Regions from separate parts of the Homo sapiens genome. Here all the other regions are linked to region 2. The links come from fine-mapping of genetic effects on gene expression. Tissue or cell type: whole blood. Region 2 holds a variant in brackets; each other region holds the start of a gene. Each region is shown on its reference strand, or each on the opposite one.

Region 1 (8,177 bases), not on the chromosome of region 2:
TCAGGCATATGTTGGCTGCAAGGGCCACAGCCTGGTGTCCCAGCCGAACATCTGCACCGCCACTGGCAGCAAGATGCCTTCCTGCCATCCACAGAGCACACACAGTCGGCCCTTCTGCTGGCACAGCCATGCCTGGTGCTCCTCCCCAGACCCATAGGACTCCCAGACATCAACTAAAGCTGACGAGACCCAGAGAGTATCTCAGCGTCTGTGCATGGTGCCACACATTACTCTGGGATCTGGGCTGGGATGTCCTGAGGGCACCTGGAGCCCGAGGTGGGGGGACTCACCAGTGGGTGGGCAGGCTCAGGGCAACCTCCCTGGAAGCCCTCCTTAGCCCCACCCTGGACCCACACCACTGGCCCAGAGAACGGGCTGGAGCAAGCCAGAGGGCCAGGGCTGGGGAGCTCCCGCATCCTCTCTACCGGTTCGAGTCCATAGGCTATGAGAACCTGTTTCCTCACCTGTGAAATGGGCCAAGACCATGACCCTTGCAGACTTGTTGGAAAAGATGAAGTGAGTAGGCACAGCACAGGGGCAGTGCACTGTGAGCCCCCATGGGGTGCTACTGCTGGTATTAGCCTTATCCAGTTAAGACGAGGGGACCTAGAGGGTCTTCGGCCAGGCTGCAGAGGGGGAAGGTCTCAGGGGAGATGGCAGCTTCCGGGCCTTCCCTTCCCCTTGGCACCCCAGGTTCCATTTTAACAGATATCATAATTTTTAATTGGTTTTCTCCTCCACTGGCTAAAAGGCTATTAGCTCCCCGCTAGGTGATCGCATCCCATTTTCTTCACACCACCAAGGAAACAGTGATTTCCTCAGCCTGTCCCTAAAGTGATTCTGCAGAAGAAAGGCAATTTAGTGAATCAGCTCAATGCACTTCCCCATTTGCTCTCTGCTTGCAGGCCCCCAGCAGGCACAGCCCACCAGTGAGGGCTGCAGGCAGCTTCTGGAGGCCAGACAGGGTTAGTGAGCTGGAGTGGAGGAGGAAGCAAGCCAGGCCCAGGTGAACCTGGTGAAGCCTCTGGCCAGAGAAAGGGGAGAAGGAAAAGGATGAAGCAGGGGGAGCTGTACCCCTGGCCTGAGCTGCCCGCGCTGATACCTGGTGCTTCAGGCAGGGGTGGGCTGCCTAGGCCCTCTGCAGAGGGTGGTCTGGCAGCTTGGATCCGGGCCCTGCCAAGTCACAGTGCCCAGCTCTTCCATGCTGGGAACAGAAGGCCCCGGGGCCCAGGGGCAGAGAGGGAATGTCCTTCCTTGCTGCAAAACAGGACCCAAGAAGTCAGGCCAGGAAGACAAGAGACAAGAGGCTTGCTGAGGAGCTGTGGGAGGTTGAGGTGCAGGGTCAGCCTGGGACCTGGGGGGAACCCCAGAAGCTGAGACTCAGTTTCCTCATCCAAGCAACGGGGACAGCTGTATCTGTGTTGAGCAATGAAATGCCAGAAACCTTTAAGAGCAACTTTTAAATGAATGTAACTTTTAGATGGAGGTTCTCTCACTCTGGTTCCAGCATACCTGGGGCTGACAGGCTATGCCCTGCAGGTATGAGGAGTGTGTGTCCCTATATACACACGTGGCGTCCCTGTGTGTATGAGTGATGAGAGGGGCTGGGGTCCCTGTGTGGACGTGGGTGAGGCAGGGTGTGAAGGAACCACGCTGTGCATGTCCACAGCCTTGGCAGCAAGTGCTGTGAGAAGGGGCAGGAGTGTGTCTTGGTGATCCAGTGTGAGTGTGCATGTGTGAGCTGTGGAAGAACCCTCATCCTCTAGAGACCCAGTCTGTGCCTGTCATCAGGCCCAGCCACTAAAGTGCAGCGTCCGCAAGAGGGCGCTTGAGGCCGAGCTGTCCCCTTGGGGTGGTTGGGGAGCACCGAGGGGCTCACTGGGGCGGTCCTTGGCAGCTCCAAGAGTGCGGCTCGAACCTCCGGAGCTGTGGCTCCTGGGAAAGAGCTCTGCAGCCTCTTCAAAGGCCCCAGCTGTCTACTCCAGGGAGTGGGGCTGCCTCTTCACTCCCAGTGCCTCCAACTGTGGTGTCCGGGTTATCCCAGGGGCTAGGGGCTCACCATCTCTGGATTCGGGAAGCTGTCTGTGGGCCAGGGGTCTGGGCACGGAAAGCTACCTGCATGCCTGCTGAGTGCCACAAGCCGGCCCCCAGAGCCTGGCCCCCACAGCCTCACTGGCCACCCCAACTGAACGCAAGGCTGTGGAAGGGTGTGGGGAAGTCCTCTGCCCAGCACACCAGCAGCAGTTCACACCTGGCCCCCTGCCCACAACCTCAAAGCCAAAGCCACAGCCCAGAATCCCAAGACAGCGTCAGAGCGCCTTGTTTGCTTCTGCCCCGTGTCTTCCCCCTGCAGCACTGGGACCCCAAAGTCCTAACACTCAGAAAAGATAGAAAGGCAAGGGCTTCTCCCCTGTCCCTCGCTAGGTGGACTGGGGACCCGCTCTGGCCTCAGCATATGCTGAGCTGAGGCGCAGGTCACACAAATGAAGTCTCAGGCAGGCCTGGAAACTCAGTTTGTGCAGGGCCTGGGGCCAGAGACAGGGTGACTGACCATGGCTTCTTCTGTTCCCAAAGGCTGTGGGGAGAGAAAGCCCTTTGTAAGGAGTGAGGGAGGATGGCCAGGGCTCCTTCCCTCTTAGAGGGAAACTTGGTTCATACACAAGCGCTTGGAGGGGATCAAGTCAGGGCCAGTTTGAGGGACACTTAAACGCGTGCCAAGGGGTCAAAGATTCCACAGCCTTGCGGCTCACTCTGCCAGAGTTTGGGTGGGGTCGATGACCATCTTTGCAAGGCCACACCTAATGCTGGGATCCTAAGGCACCTGAGGTTTCACCAGGCCCAGCACCAACGCTGGCTGGCGGCGCAAACCCCTGCCCCACCCCAAGCCCTGGGCCTCCTATGGCCGCATCTTCAGCATCTCTGCCAGGCAGCGCCACACGACTCCAGGGCTGCCGGGTGGGACGCCTATCACGGCGGCCCCTCGGGGGGAGCCACCCCAGAAACCACGGTTTTTAGGTGTTTAAAGACAGGGCGGCAAAAACGCACGAGGGAAAAGCAATCTTTTCAAAAGAGCCTCCGAATCCCTCGGCTGGCCAGGACGGCAGAGCTGGGGGAGGAACGCACGGACGCTGAGCGGGAAAAGGAAACCAGGACGGAGCCGTCTCCTGCCGAAACAGAACTCTCCGCACGAATCGCGGGCTTTCGGGGCTCCCTGACCCGTCCGCCAGGTCGGCCCCGAAACGGCTGTCCCGTTTGCTCCAGGACGCGGCTTTGGCGCAGGGCGCGGCCAGATTGAGACCTGCGGCTATGGCTAGGGTTCTGAGCACCGACCCCCGCGGCCCGGCCCGCGCTCCGCTCCCGCCCGAGACCCGCCCAGCCCCGGCCCGAGGCGCCCGGCCCGAGGCGTCCTGCCCTTCGCCCGCCGCCCGCCGCAGCCACTGCGCTCCCAGCCGAGGCCGGGTGGCCGGCGACCGCACAGCCCGCTGCCCACGGCAAACAGAAAGGCGCTTCTGAACGCGCCCGCTCCGCTGCTCGGCGCCAACTTCGCCCTGGCCCCTGCGGGAGCCGGCGGCCGGCAGAACTCACCTTTGCCTAGCAGCGGCAGCAGCAGCAGCAACAGCAGACGCAGCCCCGCGGCACCGGACGTCGCCTTCGCCATCGCCCGTGCGCGCTGGGGCCACGGCTGGAGGGACTGCGGCTAGGGCCGGCGGGTCTGGATGGCGGGTGCGGCGCTCAGTCTGGCCGCCCCATCCCCGCCCGGGGCGCGGCGGACGCGACGGACACTGGGGGCGCGACGCACGTTCCGGGGCACTCAGCGCTGCTGCGCGCCCTGCTTCGGTCGCGGGACTGAAGCGAGGTAAGCGCCGGCTGCGCCGGAGGAGCGGGTAGGGGCGGGGCGGGGCGGGGGCGGTCCAGGGGTGGGCCAGGCGGGGCCGGAGGCGGGTGGGGTGCGGGAAGGGGCGGGGCTCCAGTGCTTGCTCTGGCTGCGCGGGGTGCGGCCGGGGCGCGGCGCGTGTAGGAGCTCAGTGCGGGACGCGCGGCTTGGGCCGGGTGGGGCTTGGGGAGGAGCGGGGTGCGGGAGCGGGGTGCGGCCGAAAAGGGCCCGGCAGGAGCCGGGTGCGGACCCCGAGGTGCGCGGCGGGGATGGAACCCAGGAGCCCGGGTCCGCGCACCTACGCAGAGCCGCTCTTCCTACCCGGTGCGCGCCCGCTTGCAGTCCCTGCCTTTTGCCCTTTCCGCTGCACAGAGAGGGCAGGGATGCTACGCGGGATGCAGGTCTGGCCGACTGGCTCGGGGTGCGACCCCGCGGACTCAGAGAAGGGCGCCCCGCCTCCAGGCTCTCCGCGGAGCGCTTGCTGCGCCATTTCTCAGAGGCGAGAGGCGCAGTGGGAGCGCGGCCTCTGCTGGGGCCGGAGGCAGGAGGCGGGGAAGAGCTGAGCAGGGGAAGAGAGGCAGAATAGCCTTTTTCAGCATCCTGGGGTAGTAGAGAGGGTAGGGTCCTGGAAGGGCAGTTTGTGATTCCCCCCTCCAGCACTGGTCCAACCCTTGGAAACCGGAAACTGGCTCCGGCGTCCTTTCAGAGACCTGGTGCTGGTGGCCCTTGCATCCCTTACACAGGAGAACTCTCAGGAGATGGGCTGGCAGAGTCGGAGAGCGAGTAGCGAGGAGGAGGAAAGAATCCAATTTTCCCCCAAAGAAATGATGGAAATGATGCGCATAAACACATTTACCCCTAATAGGGAGCAGCAACTGGACCTGAGAAGGGGTTCTGGGTGAGGTTGGATGTGGGCTCAGTGGGGAAGTCCTCTGTTCTCGCCCCATCCCCGGCTGCTTTTTGAGGTCTGGCCTGCACTTAGGCGCAGAGGGATGGAAGAAGGGAAGCCCATGGGCCCTTGAGGAGGAAAAGCCAGGGAACCTGGGCCCAGGGCACCCTTGAGCCAGCCGCTCCCTTGCTTGCTGTGTGCAGAACCCCGCCCTCTTGCCTGGCTGAGCTCAGGGCTGAATAAGTGATCTGCACATCACTGCAGATATGAAGTCAAAGTGAAGTCACCCTCACAGGCAGGAGGGGGAGCTGCCAAGACAGAGGCTGGCTTGCACTCAGCCAACCGTGATGTCCAGACCTGGCTTGCTGAGGGGCAGGTGGCCGGGGCACAGGCCTGCCAGCCCAGGAGAGACACTGTGGGCCACTGGACTCCGGCTGCCTGCCACACCCTTCCAGTTTATGGAGCTAGAGTTGGCCACAAGGGGCTCCCTTGGGTTCAGACAGGTTCCATCTCTGGTGCCAGTGGCTACCTAGGCTACACACTCAGGCCTGTGCCCAGGGAAGGGACCTGATAGGTAGGGAGGGGCTGGGGGCATCTTTTGGCTACAGACAAGCTCCTGTGATTGCCTCCTAGGTGAATGAAGAGAGAAGTGGGTAGGCTTAAATAGCCCCACCCCTGCACCTCCCGGGGACCACCCTGGCCAGCCCTTGGCTGACATTGATGTCTGGCTGGGCTCTGTGTGGCCATCTTAAGGGGCCATCTGGGGCTGTGCTCCTGCCTAGCCTACCTTAGGCCTTTCCACGCTCTCGCTCCACCCTCACCCTTGGGGGTCCTGAGTGAACACCTGACACTATGAGAGGGTGTCATTTACTCCTTGGAAAAAGGTCTGGGGGGCCCTCACATGGGTGTACCCTGTACACATGCATACATGCATACACCTGTGTTCCCATACGTGGACACACACGCACACAGATGCATACCTCCCTGCTACGTGCACGCCCAGGGATCTGACCAAAGGGTCGCTCAGCAGAGGACAGTTGTGAGGCCCAGAGCCTGCTGGCCTCAGGGACTGCGGGGAAAGGAGATTCAGCCCTGCCTGGGTGTAGGCTCAGTATCCAGAACATCAGGCAGCAGGAAGGAGCTCCTTGCCCAGCAGAGGGGAAGCGAGGCCACCCCCTGAGGTCTCACAAGGGGAGGTGGGGGCCAGGTGAAGTGCAAAGCAGACGTGCCGGTCTTTGGCTGCCCAGGAGTCCTGGCCCTGGCTTCTCTCAGTCCATGGGGTGGGGAGGGCCTGCAGGGGGCTCTGCCTCTCTTTCTTGACTCCCCTTAGTCATCTCTCTGAGCCTCAGTTTCCCCAGCTATAAACATCTCCCTTTCAGAAGAAGGGGTGAAACTAGAAAGAGGGGTGCATGTGAGGGTAGAGCCCAGTGCCCGACAAACAGGAAGCCCTTAATAAGTTGTAGCCATTGGGCCTTCCTGGGCCTGGGCTCGGGCACCCTGGCCACACTGCCCTGCTGAGGGTCGCGGGCTCTCTGGGAGCTGGAGGAGGGCACATCACAGTGTGGTCAGTGCTTCCTGTCCCTGCCCGCAGGTCCCCTTGGAGAATCTTCAGGGCAGCTTTTATGAAGACACACATCCTGGGTCCCCCACTCCCTAAAAATCCATGTTAAAAAAAAAGTTCAGGGGCCAGGCTAAGGGCTCACACCTGTAATCCCAGTACTTTGGGAGGCCAAGGCAAGAAGATCACTTGAGGCCAGGAGTTCGAGACCAGCCTGGGCAGCACAGTGAGACGCTATCTCTAAGAAAAAAAAAAAAATTCCCCAAGAGGTTCTGGTGCAGGCATCTGCTTGGAGTGATTAGACCTGAGTTTGAATTTTGCCATTCATAGTTGTGTGACATTGCATACATTACTCCTCAGCTTCAGTTTTGTCATCTCTCAAATGGGGACTGAAACAGTGTCCTTCCCTGGTGACTGTGAGGAGATGGTATTTTCAAGGCTCTGCCCCAGTGCAGGGTAAGATGCTCAGTGGGCAGGCGGCTCACACCATCTTCCTGTAGCATGTGAGAACTTGGAGGTCATTCATTGCTTCTGAGCAGGTGAAGATTACCTGGAGCACCTCAGGTCTGACCCCAAAGCACCAAAACGCAGCACAGGGAAGGGAGGGAGGAGGGAAACCCATCATGGACAGAGATCTGGGCCATGCCTGTGCAGGTTTGCCTGGCGGGAGGCGGGCGGGATGCTCTGTGTCCTCTGACCCAGGTGACATGGGGGTCTCTGCCTGCACTGAGAAGCATGGTTGGAGTGAGGCTGAGTGCAGTGACAGGAAACTCTGGCTCTGGGGGTGCCTCGTGACTTGCAGGTAGGGGGAAACACATTCAAGAGCGCAGCTCGGTCCTGGTGATACTGGAAGGCTGGGTGGCATTCCTGGAACTGCTGACCGAGGCCTCTCAGAGTGGGCGTGGGCAGGGGTCCAGGTCCCTCCCATGGGCAGTGTGACATGGTGGTTGGAAGCACAGACTCTGAGGCTGGCTGTGTGCACTGTTAGCAAAGTGGTCGGTGCCTCAGTTTCCCATCTGTCTGCCACTGCCCTCTGCTCCCCCATCGGGCTATTGAGGTGAGGGGCAGGTCTACTGCTCCCCACGGTTTGCCTCCCTGGCCTTGCTGTTGGTGCCCTCCAGGGCAGCTGCGAGGAGGAAGCCAGTGACCACCAGCTAGCTCTCAGGGCACTCAGAGGGGCTGCTCAGCCAGCCCACCCTATGCCAAATATGCTGCTTCCATGAGCATGCTCACAGAACACCTGGCCTGGGCCTGCAGGGTGTGGCTGTGCAGGACAGGCTTTACCTAACTGTGCAGGTCCTGCCTGCCTGTGGGCCTCAGGTGCCCTCAGGGGTGTTTGCAGAAGAGCCCTCAACCTGGCCTGGGAGAAGACCCCTTTTGCATCCTCCCTGGGGCCTGATTAGGAGCCGGGTGCCCGAACAAAAGCAACAGGGGCCTACATATCCATCAGAGACCCTGGGGGGTTCAGAGAAAGCCCACCTCCTCCCACCAGCCTGCCCACCTACTCCCACTAACCTATCATTATCACTTTGCCCACTTCAGTTTTCCATGTCCCCACACTTTGTTCTCTTGTGAATTTCCTTCCCTCGCCCTCCTTTCTTCTTTCCCCTCTGCCCGTCTTCTCCTCCCCTTCCCTTGGAGGAATCTCCATCCTTTTCGCTCAGCACCAGAGCCAGGCTAGCCACACCACTCAGCAGCTTCTGTGGTCCTCTCTGGGCCTCGGTGTCATCCTCTGTGACATGAGAGCAATAACATGGGCACTGCCTTGAGGGTAAAGCCCAATGATGCATCAGTGGGCTCAGCAGACAGTGGCAGTGTTTCCTGCCCCTCTGCCAGGGTTTTCTCTCCTACAGGGG
Region 2 (8,177 bases):
CCATCCATCCATCCAACCATCCATCCATCCATCCATCCATCCATCCACCCATCTGTTCATCCATCCATCCATCCACACATCCACCATCCATCCATCCACCCATCCATCCATCTATCCATGCTTCCATCCATCCATCCAACCATCCATCCATCCATCATTCATCCATCCATCCACTCACCCAACCATCCATCTGTCCATCTGACAAAAAGCATTTCCTTAATGAGTACTGGGGAAGCAATGGAGAATTTCATAGAACGTGTCACACAATGACACAAATAGCTATTTCATGACAATTATGATCAACATCAGAGGGCAGAATTTCTGGGGGATTTGAGAGTCTATAACTGGCAAGGGGAGGTTTTCTTGTGGGGTGCATGTGGGTTGGGTTTGGGATGACGAAGATAAAGAATTGGTGAAGTGAGGAAACTGCCTTCCAAGTGGAGGGAACAGCATTCCCAGAGCCTCAGAGGCAGGCAAAGCCAGTCTGGAAGGAGGAAGGAGAGAATGTCGCTGGGATTCTGGTGCTGTTGCTCAGACACCCACCCCTAGGGAGAAGTGGCTCTCCCTGCAGATCTCCCACAACCCTGAAGGTGCCTCCCTGCTCCAGCCCAGAGCAGGGCTCCCTGGCCCGTCTGCCATCAGTTGAGGGGGCATTACCTGCTCTGTTTCTCTGCCTGGACTATGCATGAGCTGTTTAGGGCTGGGCTCTGGTTTTCAAGTCTTCATTCAGCAGAGACCACTGTGCACATGGGCTTTTTTTTTTTGGCGGGGGCGGGGGGAGGGGTTACTAAAATATACTTAATAAATTTTACCTTCTTAACTATTTCTAAGTGTACAGTTCAGTGGCATTGGGTACATTCACATTGTTGTGCAATCATCACCACCAGCCAACACCAGAACTTTTCCCAAACTGAAGCTCTGTACCCATTAGACACTAACTCCCCACTCCCCTCCCCCAGATCCTGCCAGCCACCATTCTACTTTCGATGAATTTGACTACTCTAGGGACCTCATATAAGTGGAATCATCCTGTGCTTGTGCTTTTGTGACTGGCCTGTTTCACTCAGCATGATGTCCTCAAGGTCCACGTGTGGCATGTGTCAGAGCTCCATTCCCTTTGATGGCCAAGTCATATTTCCTAGCATGGACAGGCCCCGTTTTGTTTACCCATCATCTGTGGATGGACACTTGGGGTGCCCACTTTTTGGCTGCTGGGGACGATGCTGCTTTGAAGCCCACCAGCTTTTGGTACCTCTTTGGTGGAGTACCTTCGGCCAACTACACACCCACTGAGCAGTTTGTATTTTGCAAAATTTTATAGTGAAGGGACTGCAGACGTCGTCTTGACCAACTCTCTTCCTTTTGCAGCTGAGTGGAACCAAGTCCACTGGCTGCGGCGCTTCCTCTTCGCCCAGCTCTCTGCACGGTGGCCAAGCTCTGGGCCCTTAGCTCCTGGCAGGACCATATGTCCCCTGATCGGACTTTTGTGACACCGGGGCGCCCCACCTCATGCCTGCAGTGGTGCAACCCACACTACTCTAGAAAGTTTATGTGCCTGCTGCACACCCTCCTTTCCCTAGCCCACCGCAGCCATCCCATGGTGTTGTGGGAAATGACCTCAGAGAGCTTCCCCAGACAATGGAGAGTCTTTAGAATGCTGGGCAGCTGGACCCTTGGCCCTGGATACCAAGAGCTATGCAGGCACTTATCCCAAAGCCACCCCCATTCCAGCCAGATGCTGGTCCCCAACCCTGGGAAACAGAGACCAGGACCTGTGCCACTCCTGCTTGGCATGCACCTGGACTCCCCAGGACAGCCCTGCGGGTGGGTTTTCTTATCTCACTTTACAGACAGCATACGGGGCTAAAAAGTAGAGAAATGACTTGCTTAGAGCACCAGGGCCCAGCACAGAGTTCAGCTTCAAAGCCATCATTTCATTGTCCTCCACCAGCAGAGGAAGCCTAGTGACCGCCCCTTCCTACCCCCAGCCTCATCCCCACAATCACAGGGTCCCCTGCTGACAAGTGGCTCCCAGGGCAGGTCTCCCAGCCTAGCAGATCTCCTGGCTTGGAGACCCAGGATTTCTCCTGGCAAGGTCTCTAGGGCAGATGAGGCTGAGCTGCCTTCAAGTCCACCCAGGCCTCCCCAGAGGAGGCCCCCCTCCCAGGAATGGCATCCCAGCTCCTCCCTCCTCTGGGCTGGCTTCATGGGGGCAGACACCTTTACTTCTGCAACACAGCTGGGCTGCAGTCGTACAAGGGATCATGGTTTGCAGGCTGAGCTGGCAGAGGGACACCCCAGGGTGAAGGGCATTTGTGGGGCATCCTGTCATTGAACTTTCTCAGAAGGCCCTGCCCTTCTCTTTTTCCCTCCAAGGCAGTTGTTGGGATGGCAACATCAATGCTGGCCGTGGCACTTCCTCTTTGGCCAGCTCTGCACAGTGGCCGAGCTGTGGGCCCTCAGCTCCTGGCAGGGCCCTGTGTCCCCTGACCAGACTTCCGTGAGGCCAGGCCTCCCCACCCCACACCTGCAGCAGTGCAGCCCATGCTGCTCTAGGAGGTTTATCTGCCAGAGAGGCTTTGAGGGTGGGGAATGAGACCCTTATCTCCCTGCCAGGGGCCTGCCCTACAGTTAGGGCTTTGTAATCTGACATTGTGATTTTTCACTCTTGTTTTTCCCCTCATGGAGGGAAGATTTGCTGAATCACCCAGGGTGAGGTGGTTGGAGGAGGAGGGGGGCACCAGCTGGGGGGCAGTGATAAGTCTCAGGCCGGGCTGAGGGGCGCTGGGGAGCCACCGGGAGGAAACCCTTAACCGTGACGGTTTCCAGCTAAGATTGTAGGCTTCTAAAGAGCTGCCTTGGGGAGGCTGAGCTCAGGGATCCTGAACCTTCCTTCCTGAGGAGTGCAGAGGAGGGCCGGGGGTGCCAGGCAAGCCCCGTAGACATCCCACGAGCCAGCAGGGATGGGAAGGCAGGGACCGTGACCGTGGCAATGACCAAAGATGCATGTGGCTGGCTGCCAAGCCCCAACAGGATAGCCCCCAGGACCCCACTAGGTCACCCTTGCTTTGCACACTGGCCTCCTGAAGCCCTGAGAAGGCGCTGGCTAGAGCACTGCTCCCTAACAGGTTGGGCAAGAGCTGGGGGCAGGGGAGGCCTCTTGTCTCCCCCAGGGCTTTGTGCCCCGCTGTTTTCTTGGCTTGGGGCAGCCCTCTGCACTTCCAACAGATCAAATTCTTTTTGTCTTGCAAATGTC[G/A]ACTTCCCTCATTAGACTTCCCTTAACCCCAGGGCTGGGCTTAGTAACCCCCTTGGGCCTCCAGACCCCCCACAGCGTCTCCTCTCCTGGGTCTTGCCAAGGCCCTGCCCAGAGTGGACGCCCAGCAAATACTTGTTGAACAGACTTTGTACCCTGCGAGAAGTGGTCTTCTATTGGCACTAAGTCTGGGGTCTACAAAGTGGGAAGAAATCCCCAGAGGAGCTGGGCTGGCCCCCAGGAATGCCCTCTGTTGCAGAGAGGACCCAGCTGCTGGGAGTGGTAGACCCCAGCCTGACCTCCAGGTGCCCGACCCTCAGCCTCTGCTGGGGCTGGCCACACAGTAGAGACAGCTGTCCACCAGTGATCTCATGGTAGTGTACAGAGATGGGGTCGTGCTGGGCGCAGGGGGAGGGCTTGGAGCAGAAAGGCCAGGCCGGACGGTGCCTGAGGCTTCCCCAGGATGCTCTCTACGCGACTGACTTCTGATTCCCCTCAGAGTCCGGTGGGCAACCGCAGCTCCGGGGAAGATGGGTGATTGACACCCCTGAGTCAGTGGCCACATCCCTTGCTGCTCCCAAAAGGGGCTCCTGGGGCAGGAAGAGCTGCCCACGGTGGTCGCTTCGCTCCCTTCCTGCTGCCCAGCTGAGCTCAGAGATAAGTCCTTGCTGGGCTGAGAGAGGCCTGGGGCTTAGGCCTTCCCCAGAAATCATGTTCGAGTTCCCCATGTGGAGGAAGGGGCCTGACGGCCACGATAACCCCTCTATTTTTAAGAGATCCGGGAGGAAGTTCCAAGTCACCCTTGGCAGAAATAGCTCTGGGCTTCAGCCTGGTGTCTGTAGCTCCAGCTGTCGGCAGGGACAGCCGAGGAGTGCAGCAGGATTCAGCTCATCACAGCATGGGGGGGCCCACCTGCTCCCCACCTGCTCCCCAACCCCAGACTGGGAGGACCTGTGGCCCTGCAGGTCCAGCCCAGAACCTGGGCTCCAAGGTCAGAGCTTTTGGCAATGAAATAACAACTACATTTATTGTGTGCCTACCCCGCACCCTGAGCCATTCACAGCGTTCACAGGAAAGTGCTGTGATCGTGCCACAAACGTGTCAGAGGGAAGAGAACTGCCTGGGAAGGCATCCGGAGGAGGTGAGGCTTGAGCTGTGCCCAGGACAGTTAGGAGAGAGCTGAGCAAATCGGTAGGAGGAAAAGAGCCACTTGGGTAGAGGGGACAGAAAGAGCAGAGGTTGGGAGTCAAGAGGTGTCTACAGGAGGCTGAGGCAGGAGGATCATTTGAAGCCAGGACTAACTAGGCAACAGAGTGAGACCTCATCACTACAAAAAGTACAAAATTAGCCTGGAGTGGTGGTGAGTACCTGTGGTCCCAGCTATTCTGGAAGCCAAGGCAGCAGGATGGCTTGAAGCCAGGAGTTCAAGACAAGTCTGGGCAACACAGTGAGACCTTGTCTGCACAAAAAAAAGAAAAAGAAACTGGCTGAGCGAAGTGGCTCACACCTGTAATCCCAGCACTTTGAGAGGCTGAGGTGGGCAGATTGCTTGAGCCCAGGAGTATGAGCCCAGGCTGGCAACATGGCTAAACCCTGTCTAATACAAAAATTAGCTGGTTATGTTGGCACATGCCTGTACTCTCAGCTACTCGGGAGGCTGAGGTGGGAGGATCACTTGAGCCCAGGAGGTTGAGGCTGCAGTGAGCTGTGATCATGCCCCTGCACTCCAGCCTGGGTGACAGAGTGAGATCCTCTCTCAACAAACAAACAAACAAACAAAAAATTTTAAAGAAAGAAAGAAAAGAAAAGAAAAAGAAACTGAGGCCCAGAGGGCAGTGTCTGACCAAAGCCACCCAGCCAAGCAGAGTGACATCCCTCGGTCTCCTGACTCCATCCAGGGCTGTCCTTCCACAACCCCCTCTCTTGTGCAGGGAAACTCAGTGCTTCTTAATGAGGTCTCTCTGGCCACCCATCTAACTTGGTGATCTCCACGTCATCAACACCCCCACACCTTTCTTTTTTTTTTTTTTTTTTTGAGACAGAGTCTCACTCTGTCACCCAGGCTGGATGGCAGTGGCACGATCTCAGCTCACTGCAACCTCTGCCTCACAGGTTCAAGTGATTCTCCTGCCTCAGCCCCCAGAGTAGCTGGGATTACAGGCACCGGCTACCACGCCCTGCTAACTTTTTTTTTTTTTTTTTTTTTTGAGATGGGGTTTCACTCTTGTTGCCCAGGCTGGAGTGCAATGGCACGATCTCAGCTCACCGCAACCTCTGCCTCCTGGGTTCAAGTGATTCTCCTGCCTCAGCCTCCCGAGTAGCTGGGATTACAGGCATGCACCACCATGCCAGGCTAATTTTGTATTTTTAGTAGAGACAGGGTTTCTCCATGTTGGTCAGGCTGGTCTCGAACTCCCGACCTCAGGTGATCCGCCTGCCTCAGCCTCCCAAAGTGCTGGGATGACAAGTGTGAGCCACCGCACCTGGCCTAATTTTTGTATTTTTAATAGTTATGGGTTTTCGCCATGTTGGTCAGGCTGGTCTCGAACTCCTGACCTCAGGTGATCCACCCCTTTCTGCCTCCCAAGTGCAGGGATTACAGGCACGGGCCACCACGCCCGGCTTCTCTGCATTCTGTTTCTCCTGGCTTTGTTTAGTCTCTGCATCCCCGCTGAGCTCCAAGAGGGCGGGGATTTCGTCTGTTTTCCCCTCGGCCCGATCCTCACCACCTGTGGCAGGCACTCGATAGATATAGGAGTTGATGAATGAAAGATTTCTGACCTGTCAGGGTGGTCTTTGTGCCTCTGTGAGGGTCCTGGGTGCAGTCTCTCATACATGACTCCAGGGGACACACTGCTGGCTCTGCAGACACTGGCATGGCCCTCTGCTTGCACCCCAGGCTGGCAGAGGTGGGCACCTACAGACTGATCCTGGGCTGGGACCGTTCCCACCAGGTCAGAGAGCCTTGGTAGCAATGCCTTTTCCTTCTCTGCCTCTTAAAACAAATGAACAAATCACCTTTCTTTCCCCACGCCCTCCCCCAAAACATTGTTGTTATAGAAACCACGGAAAACTGTATATATGTATATAAAAGGGACTTAGGTGGGCGTGGTGGCTCATATCTGTAATCCCAGCACTTTGGGAGGCCGAGGCAGGTGGATCACTTGAGGTTAGGAGTTTGAGACCAGCCTGACCAACACGGTGAAACCCCATCTCTACTAAAAGTACAAAAATTAGCCAGGCATGGCAGTGGGTACCTGTAATCCCAGCTACCCAGGGAGGCTGAGGCAGGAGAATCGCTTGAACCCAGGAGGTGGAGGCTGCAGTGAGCCAAGATCACGCCATTGCACTCCAGCCTGGGTGACAGAGTGAGACTCCATCTCAACAAAACAAAACAAAAACAAACAAACAAAAGGACTTAAAAATCCACCCCACAAAGATAACCCTGTGGATGCCGGCGCCTGCCTCCCCCCGCCAGGTGGCTGTGCACAGCTGAGGACCAGGCTGCCCTGTGGCTGCACTTAGGGCTGGGAGGCATTGCCTCATGTGCGACTTTTCCTTGCAGATCACGAAGCACTTGTCGGACCTCCAGACCTCAGGGTGGGCGTGGAACCTCCCAGCTTTCCCTTCTCTTCCTGCTCTTCTTCCTCCTGGTCTCCTGGGTCCTTGCCCCCCTGCCTGCTCTCCTGCTCACTCTCAGACTCAGTTTCCCCAGTCATGAGGAGGGGTGTAATGTTGGAAAGCCGTGCCTCCCTGGATGGAGACAAGTGCCAGGCTGGACACCCCAGAGGGACTCACAAAAGATAACCTGAGCCTGACTCTCACCCGAGGCCTTGGGGCTTGGGGTTAGGGAGGAAAAGGGTTGGGGTGGGATGGAATGGGGTTCAAGTAATTAAAGAAGCAGCCCCCGGCTGCCTGGCCCTCCTGCTCCCAGGGATTTCCACGTGCATCCTGGAGCCCCAGGACCTTCCAGGAAAGGGAGTTTTTTCCCTAGGTCTTGCGGAAGAGCTGAGTAGTGGCAGCATTGTCTGGTGATCTGGAAGGCTATGCCTGGGTTTGATGGGGTCTTCAGCCTGTGCCTGCCCGGGGCTGATTCCCCACTGCAGTGGCTCAAGGCTGGGACGTCAAGGACCCCTGAGGAACCTCGGAGGCCTCTTCCTCCCCAGCTTGTCCTTTGAGTGAAGTGGGTGGAAGTCTCTCTCTCTCTCTCTTTCTCTCTCTCTGTCTGTGTCTGTCTCTCTCCCTCACTCTCTCTCTCTCTCCCTCCTCTGGTCCCTTTCTCCCGCTCTCTGGGCCACCAGGCCCCTGATAACACTTGGAAGGCGCTATCGGCTCAGGAGTGCCCTCCTGCTTGGCCCATGGTTCTACTCCACACCGACGGTTGGCAGCCGGCACCGTGCGATAAACTTATCAGGCCAAACCTGAGCATGCCGGGTCGGAACATGCCCTGCCTCAGATTTCCCTCCCGCAGCATCCCTGCAGCCCCCATCCCCCGGGAACCCTGGGTCCTGCCTGTCTCCGGGCCAGGCCCAACTCCAGCTAGACACCCATGGAGGTGGTCCCGGACAGCCCCTGACCCAGACCAGAGGAAGAGCTGGGGACCCTGTGAGAAGTCACAGGTCCAGTGTCCACCCCACTGTTCCCAAACCAGGCTGTCACTCTACCTACCTTGGAGGCCCTGCCCCAGCTGCTAAGAAGGAGTCGGGAGGTTGCATACCCATCCTAAACTTACTGGGGACCTAGTAGGCCCTGGCCCCAAAGGATAGGACCCAGCATCTGCCAGGAGGTGGCTCACAGAGTAGCAGGGTGGGGGCGAGACAGCCAGCACTTGTAAAGTAAAAAGTCACCTGCCTGCAAGGCTCTGCACTGCACTAGAGGGGCCTGAAGGGACCTGCAGCTTTGAGGGAGGGGACAGAGACACAAA
Region 3 (8,177 bases), not on the chromosome of region 2:
TTACCCAAGCTGGTCTCAAACTCCAGGGCTCAAGTGATCTTCCCGTCTCAGCATCCAGTAGTGCTGGGATTACAAGAGTGAGCCACCATGCCCAAACTTAAACTTACAGATTTTTAACACAGACAATGTAGTTAATTGCTGGGCCTTCCACCAAGAAAGGACACTTGCAGTCCCATAGCCCTCTTAGGGTTTCTGTTACGTTGAGTTCTTGCCACTCTTGATTAGAGGCTGCTTGTAGGGTTCTGAAATAATTTCCACATACTTTTCCTGTAACACCTTACTTTTTTGAAAGAGAAATTTTGAGGAAGGCCGAATATCTTCTATTTAGGTCTTCTAATGTTTGAAATAAAAATTACCTCTTCTCCCTTCTGGGGCAGTTGGTAAATTGTTAATTTATGGGCTTTATTAGAATGACTTTAAATTAAGCCCAGAGGGGGACAGTTCTCTGATGTTTAACAAAATTTGCGAGTACAAATTAAATTTAAGACAAAAAATAAGGCCTGCTATTTTATTTTACCCCTTTGATCCATATCTAAATTTTGTGTTCTGCTCAGAGGATGCTAAAGTGTCGATATAGGTCTGAATGTACCTACTCCATAGCATGTGAATGTAACCCACCTCATAAACTCCATTATCATTAGAACAGAGACTGCAAGAGGAAGAGGAGAGCCTCTAGGCCCGCCTCTGCATAGTCTTGTATCTAACTTACTGAGAGCAAAAAAGGAGGACAATCCTGACTCTTCTGACCAATCTTTGAGACAAACTGCAAAAGAGAGGAAGAGTCAACCTCTGACCACATGGTACCATGAAAAACATGCTCTCACCAATTATATAGACCCCTCTTATCTGCTTTTCTATTTTCCCCAAGACCGGAGAAGGTTGGAGCAGGGTCATGACAGGAGTAAAGTCCCTGTCTAGCATGTCCTTGAGTGGCAGGAAGTGTTAAAGGAAGTTTATGTTTTATACTTCAAGCCAGAAATGAGTAAGTGATAGTAGGAATACCAGTAATAATAGTCAATATGTATTTAGCATTTATTAAGTGACACGCACTGGTTTAAATGTTTTATATGTGTTATTTCATCATTAAATTCCCCTGAGAGATATATTCTATTATTCACAGGACAGAATTATAGAAACACAAGATTAAGTAACTTGAGTAAACAGTGGCAGGGCCAAAATTTAAATCCAGGTGATGTAATTCCAGAACTCCTTTGCTTAAGGGGATCCACTAAACTAGTCTGGTGAATGGAAGATCTCTTGTTTGCACAAAAACTTGTACAATTAATTTTCTTAGCAGCATTATCTATAATAGCTAAAAGGTAGAAACCACCCAATTTGGAATAAGTTAGATAACAAGACTACGTAGAGGTGGGCCAAGAGGCCCTTGTCTTCCTCTTGCAGTCTCTGTTCCAATGATAATGGAATTTGTGAGGTGGTTTGCATTTATATGCGATGGAGTAGGTATATTCAGACCTATATATACACTTTAGCACTTCCTAGACAGAACACAAAATTTAGATTTGGAGCATATGGCTAAAATAAAATAGGTCTTATTTTTGGTCTTACATTTAATCCACATCCTCAAATTTTGTTACACTTAAGGGAATTGTCCTTCTCTGGGCTTAATTTAAAGTCATTCTAATAAAGCCCATAAATTGACAATTTACCTACTTGTCCCAGAAGGGAGAAGAGGTTATTTTTATTTCAAACCTTAGAAGACCTAAATAGAAGACATCCAGTCTTCCTCAAAATTTCCCTTTCAAAAAAGTAAGGTGGCGCAAATCTTCCTATGTGGAGATTATTTCAGAGCCCTGTAAGTAGTTGCTAATCAAGAGTGGCAAGAGCTAAAGGGAACAGGAACCCTAAGAGGGCTATGAAATTACAAGTGTCCTTTCTTGGTGGAAGGTCCAGCAATTAACTACACTATCCATGTTAAAAATCTGGAAGTTTAAAGCTGGGCATTTTGACTCAATCCTGTAATCCCAGCAGTATAGGAGGCCAAGGTGGGAGGACCGCTGGAGCCCAGGAGTTTGAGATCAGACTGGGGAACATGGTGAAACCCCATCTCTACACAAAATGCAAAAATTAGCTGGGTGTGGTGGTGGGCGCCTGTAATCCCAGCTACTCAGGAGGCTGAGGCCCAGGCTGCAGTAAGCCACAATGGCATCAGGGTACTCCAGCCTGGGCAACACAGTGAGACCCTGTCTCAAAAATATCTGATAGTTTGTCATTGGTTCCTTCCATTGCCTACCCTCTATGCTCAATCAATCTCATTCTAATCCTACACAACCATTTTTCAACTCTGTGTATTTCTCCCATCTTCTCAAGGCAAGCCATTATTCTATTTTTATCAGAAGTATTCATTATAGCCTCTGAATGTTCCCTGTGTCCATTTGTGGCTTTGGATATTCAATCCACCACTGATGTTGTAGCCAGAATGATCAAATACAAAAACAATTGAGTCACCATCCCCTTTAAAAGCCTTCTTTTATATTTCACCACCCTTAGCATAAAGTTAAAATTTTTAATGTTGATAACAAAAGCTCGGCTACTTCAGCACAAATCTATTGTAGTCTTACCTCGAATCTCTCTCCTTTTAATTTTTAAAGCTCCAAGTATATTTGACTTATTTAAGTTGTTCCAAAGACGTAATTTCATTCCTATATTGAGACATCTGCATATATTGAAACCATTTGCAGGAATGTTCCACCCCTCTTGTGACCACCTTGTAAGAACAAAAACAAACCCACCACATCATCTAATCTTCTCACACATGAACAGCATTTTATAGTCTCTATCTTCTCTCAGACACTATTCCCCCACTTCCCCACCATTGCCCACATGTGGATTAGTCAGCCTATGACGGTAAATAAGGGTTTAAGAAATGTGTTATGTTCCTTCTACATTGCAAAAGTCAAAGTTATTTGGAAAGTGACTAAAGATGATTCTTCTTAGTCCATCTAAATGTGTACTTTATTCTTCTTTAATGTAAAAGAACCTCTGCCTCAATCTCTCAGGCACACCTTCAGACTGAGAATTTAGGACATGTTGGGTCTGTCTTATCAAACGCACTGGTGGTTCTCTCTCTGTGTTTAGTGCCTCTCTGGTAAGACTGTAAGCTTCCTCGAGGGCAGAGCAATTATATCAAAATAAAGCTTGTAACTGACTCCTATGCTTTCCCATAATTCTTTGGTAACATAGGTCAGGTTCTGGTCATTCAAGGCTGGTGCTTTGTCATTCTAAGAAACTCTGGCCATAAATTCATATAACTGCCTCCTCTTTTTCCACCACAGAAATCCTTGTGTTAATTATCTACGGCACATGAAGTCCCCAAGAACAAAAACGTGTTTACCATCCAGGGCTTGACTTCTCTATATTCAATTTTTTTTTTAACTGCTGAGAATATTGGATGCATATGAGGGACATTTCTTCCAGGTTGGAGAAGAATTTAAACCTTGGTTTTGCCACATCACCTATATGCATCAGGCTCTTAAGAAATACAATGTCTTTCCCCCACACCCCTGATAAAGAGGTGGGGAAACCCAGACCACCCTTCCCTCTTCTATTGGCCCCAGTCACCTTGTGGATCAGCAGCACCACCAGTCTCTTATTTCCTCATTTTTATGTCACCATCCTCCTCATGGGTCACAATTGCAAGGAGAGAGCATGAGGAGAGTGGTACAAACAGCCATCCGTTTTTCTTGGCAAAGTTGTCAAATAGACTAGAAACCCAAAATGAGGCCTGAATCTGGATGGTTTTAGAAGGATGATGGGGATGCAGAAGTGGTGGCATGGGAAGGGAAAAGGGGGAAAGGCCCGGGCTAGGAACCAAGAATTCTGTTTTTGTTTTTGTTTTTGTTTTTCTCCCAGCCCTTTTGTTAACTTGTGTGATTCTGGGTACATTATTTCCCTTTTATTGGCTTCTTTTACTTCATCTGGGGAAAGATTACAATGGCCACGACCACTTACAAGCTTCTTTCTTATCCTAAGAATGCTAAAAGTCTACAAGGTGTTTTTCATTAGCAGATTTTATCATGAGCAGCCTCAGTTTACTGCCTGGGTGCCCCATGAATAGTGCCAAAGACCACTGGAGAACTAGGTCAGGCCACAGCCCATCTAAATGTACAAGGCTGGGGACCCTGCCTGTGCCCTACTCCATGTACACCAAATTCTGCATGTGATACATCTGTTCTTAAATCCTGAGTTATAAAAATAACCAGTCAGACACAGAGAATAAAGACCACAGAAGAAGGGCATTAACAGTAGATGAGGTAACTAGTCAAAGGTTTAAAATGTTGCTTTCAGTGTTTTGATATCCTGAAGACTCAGGGGACAAAAGTAACTAAACAACCTTATCCAGCCTCCAATGTCAGCCTTTAGGAGGCTTTTCTAACTCCTATCGACTGTAGCAAAAACTGTTCCTCATCCCCCCACCGAATGCACATTTAAAGGTGCACTCAACCCACCCCAACCCTGAATACCAGCTTGGGTCATGGGAAGTGGCCTCATTATTCTTCTCATTCCCCTCCCAGAAATTCTTAACCCAGGAAGTGAAACAAGCCATCAGCCCGAAAGCCTAGGAAGGCAAGTCCCTGGACCTACCTTTCTTCAGGCCTGCAATGTCTGCTGTAGGTCTGATGCATGCAGGGCTCTGGGCAAGTTCCTCAAAGTTCTTTGGTCTAGACCCAATCAACTTCCCCCACTCCACACCTCACTCAGTTTAAATCTGCATTCCTCTTCTAGCAGATGTTTGGAACCTTAAAGGCTGTGCTGAGAATTTCTGAGACGCACAGCTAGTTCCTCTTTTATATCGGAAGCATTAACTGATTTTGTGTTCCCAATATGGGTGTGGATGTCTATTTTGAAATTTGCTGAAAAAGCAGGGGCTGCCTGATACAGTCTTTCCTATGAAAATAATACTGCTAATTACTGTGGATATCAGTGGTAGAGGATTTACTGTATGCCAGACTCTCTTCAAAAGTCGTTATATAAACAAGTAAATGGTATTTTGTAAATACCCCCTTTCACAGGGTCACACATTTCCACAGTACTCTTGTCTTCCTGGAGCACTACTATTACTATTTTATTAGGTTGGTGCAAAAGTAATTGCAGTTTTTGCCATTATTTTATGGCCAAAATCACAATTAACTTTTGCACCAACCTTAATATACACAACTTAAATGTTTTATTTACATGAAATTCCACCTTTAGAGATTCATCAGGAGTGGCCATAAAATGGCAACAAGTTGGTTGTATGGCAATAAAACAACACCTTTCTAAGTGAAGGAAGCAGCTGGTATCATAGAACGAGCTGGTCTTTGACTAAGATCAAACCAATGGCAAACATTTCTTGCATGGCCCTGTTAATCTCCTGAACCTAAGATTCATTTGTAAAATAAAATAATGCCTACTTTACATGGAGGAGGAAAGCAAAGTGGTGTGCAGTTTTCATTCATTCAGCATTTTCTTTAGAAAAACTACTATAAGCCAAGCAGTGTGCCGTGTGCTTCTGAAAAAATGGTAAAAAATAATTTTCACTCAAAGAGTTTATAGACTACTTGGAAAAACAGACCAGTAAATAAATCACTACAATCCATTACTATCAGTTATCTGCAAGGTAAAGTGGCAATACAGATGAGTAAATACATCATTACAACCCATTGTAATCAGTGATCTGCAAGGTAAAGTAGGATATCCTAAGAGAGCTCATAGGAGGATCAATGAACCCAACATTGGGTAGGCAGAGGAGACTTCCTAGATAAGGGGACATCTAATTGGAGACCTGATGAATGAGCAAAAGACACACAAATGGAAAGGGAATGAAGGAAGGTAATATTATTATTTCTATTTTTCAGAAGAAGAAACTGAAACTCAGAGATATTCGTATAGCTGGTATAGATGAGATTGAAATCCAGTTTTACTTAATTCCAAAAACTATGTGGTCTATAATCTGAAATTACGATTCTCAAAATTAAAATAGATTATATTTCAGAAATATTGTCCTGGTTTCAGACAACAGGAATAAATAATAATAAAATCAGAGAATTAGGCTCAAGGTAGAGGCAGTTCTCTAGGGAAGGGATGATGGTTACTGAACTACCTGTGATGCTAGTGAAGTTGGAGAGAATGAATGGATTTGAAAGATGCTTAGGAACAAGAAATGACAGTACTTGTTGGTATAATGGATGTGTAAATCAGGAGAAAAAACAGGAAAGGATGACACTCAGATTCTGGGTTAGGAAACTGAATGAGTGATAGAGCCATTCAGTAAGGCAATAGACATGGACCAGGACAGAACTGCAGGAACAAATAGTAAAATTTTGAACGTATTTGATCAGAGTTGTGTAGGGACCTTCAAATAAAGTTGACAAGAAGTGGATAACTGGCAGGAGCTAGGGAATGAGAACATGGCTATAGAGGTAAACCCAACAGCTCTTCGCCCAGAGGGATGAGGTCACCCAGGCTTGTGGGTGGAGGCAGAAAACGTCAAACCCTTTTTCTAGAGGATAGAGACAGTATAATCAGAAATAAGATTTCCCAGAGGATTATGAAAAAGAGGGTAAGGAAGATAGCAGGCAAACTCGGAAAATGTGGCATTGCAGAAGACAAGGGTACAGAGTTTCATGACTTCCTAAGAGAGGTTGAAATTCTGGACTAAGGACAGGCATCAGTCTCTCCTCCCACTCCATATGGTATGAAATGAGACAGTATCAGGTTATTATTAGCAGATAACAATTTCAAGAGAACAATAACATGAAATTTGACAGAGAAATATATATATTCTATATATATAGAATATATATCCTATTATATATAATAGAATATCTATATATTATATATAATTATATATCATATACAGATATATTATATATAATAGATATAATATATAATATATATTATATAATAGAATATATATTATATTATAATAGAATATATTATATATATAATAGAATGTATCTCTATATAATATGTTATATTATATATTAACAGAGACTGGGTTTCACCATTTTGGCCAGGCTGTTCTCGAACTCCAGATCTCAAGTAATATACCCTCCTCAGCCTCCCAAAGTGCTGGGATTACAGGCGTGAGCCACTGCACCCGGCCTTGAGCTGGATTTTGAATCCTATGCCCTATGTGAGCTGGAGCAAGTTGCTTAGGCTTTCTGCACCTCAGTTTACTCATCTGTAAAATATAGATAGTAATATGTCATAGCGTTGTTGAAAGGGTTATATTAGGTAATATAAATAAATTACTTATCATTTTTTGAGCACAGAAATATTTCAGTAGGAAGAAATCATTCAATTATTATTAAATACTTCAGAGAGACAAGCTAACAACAGTAAAATGTTCACTGGATTTAGCCTGAAAGAAATCATTAGTGCCCCCTTCCCCAGTTCCCAATCAATTTTCTTTCTCCAGAAGCAAGTATTTAAATTTTAATTGTTTCTTTTTGTGTTGACTCCATATTTCTAAGTGAATGATTTTAAATACTGTTCTAATTTTTGGTTTTATATATTATGCACTAACCTCCTACTACTGAAGACAATAGACTAACCCCTATATCCTTCATTTTTACCCTGGACACACCTTCCCACCATAACACTTCCTTTTCCCTCATTCTCCCATATAGTTTTATCACGATTTTTTAGTTAACTCAATTTATAGTATTTAAATCATTAATGGCTAATTCATTATGAGTGTTATGATTACGCTTCCTTTTGACCATTTTTCTCTCTGAAGTTAGTAACTGCCTCATGTTTCATATGCTGTTTTCTACATACCTGAAAATAAGTTGTTTTAAATACTCCACCATAAATGTAAATCTCAGTGTCTATAGACCCACAGGTAATTGATCTGTTTCATTAGTATTTTTCTGTATACACTCTCCCTTCCTGGCGCCTTATATTCTCCTATTCCAGTTAGGACTGGTTATACTCTAGGCCTTCAGGGATCTTAATTCACTATTCTCAGGGAATTCACTTACTTAAGTATTCACTATTGATATGGTTTGGCAGTGTCCCCACCAAATTTCATCTTGAATTGTAGCTACCATCATTCCCACATGTTGTGGGAGGGAACCACTGGGAGATAATTGAATCATGGGGGCGTGTTCCCCCATACTTTTCTCGTGGTAATGAATAAGTCTCACCAGATCTGATGATTTTATAAGTGGTTT

Evidence for each region. PIP is the estimated chance that this variant, and not a neighbour inherited with it, causes the effect. A credible set is the group of variants that fine-mapping cannot tell apart.
Region 1: RET starts here. The variant in region 2 is the best candidate, but not a certain one, in a credible set for the expression of RET in whole blood (TOPMed, PIP 0.50).
Region 3: it holds the start of MS4A4A, and the variant in region 2 is the best candidate, but not a certain one, in a credible set for the expression of MS4A4A in whole blood (TOPMed, PIP 0.81).

The regions. Positions count from the first base shown.
Region 1 is chr10:43,072,740-43,080,916 of GRCh38, reverse strand. RET (ret proto-oncogene) reads right to left here and starts at 3,848. Exons shown (of 20, transcript NM_020975.6): 1 at 3,586-3,848. The coding sequence starts at 3,658. RefSeq lists enhancers at 2,503-3,493, 3,802-4,659, 4,525-4,791, 6,874-7,035, 7,246-7,537 and 1 more and promoters at 3,626-3,924, 3,626-4,309.
Region 2 is chr9:132,998,831-133,007,007 of GRCh38, reverse strand. No RefSeq gene overlaps it. Among named protein-coding and RNA genes, the nearest start is that of SNORD141A, 18 kb to the left of the region's middle. RefSeq lists enhancers at 1,163-2,034, 2,512-2,806, 2,681-2,825, 2,909-3,782, 5,618-6,118 and cis regulatory regions at 2,745-2,762, 2,230-3,181, 7,280-8,177. The variant G/A (reference allele first, on the strand shown) is at 3,257.
Region 3 is chr11:60,277,142-60,285,318 of GRCh38, reverse strand. MS4A4A (membrane spanning 4-domains A4A) reads right to left here and starts at 4,653. Exons shown (of 7, transcript NM_148975.3): 1 at 4,603-4,653. The coding sequence starts at 4,643. RefSeq lists a silencer at 4,719-4,768.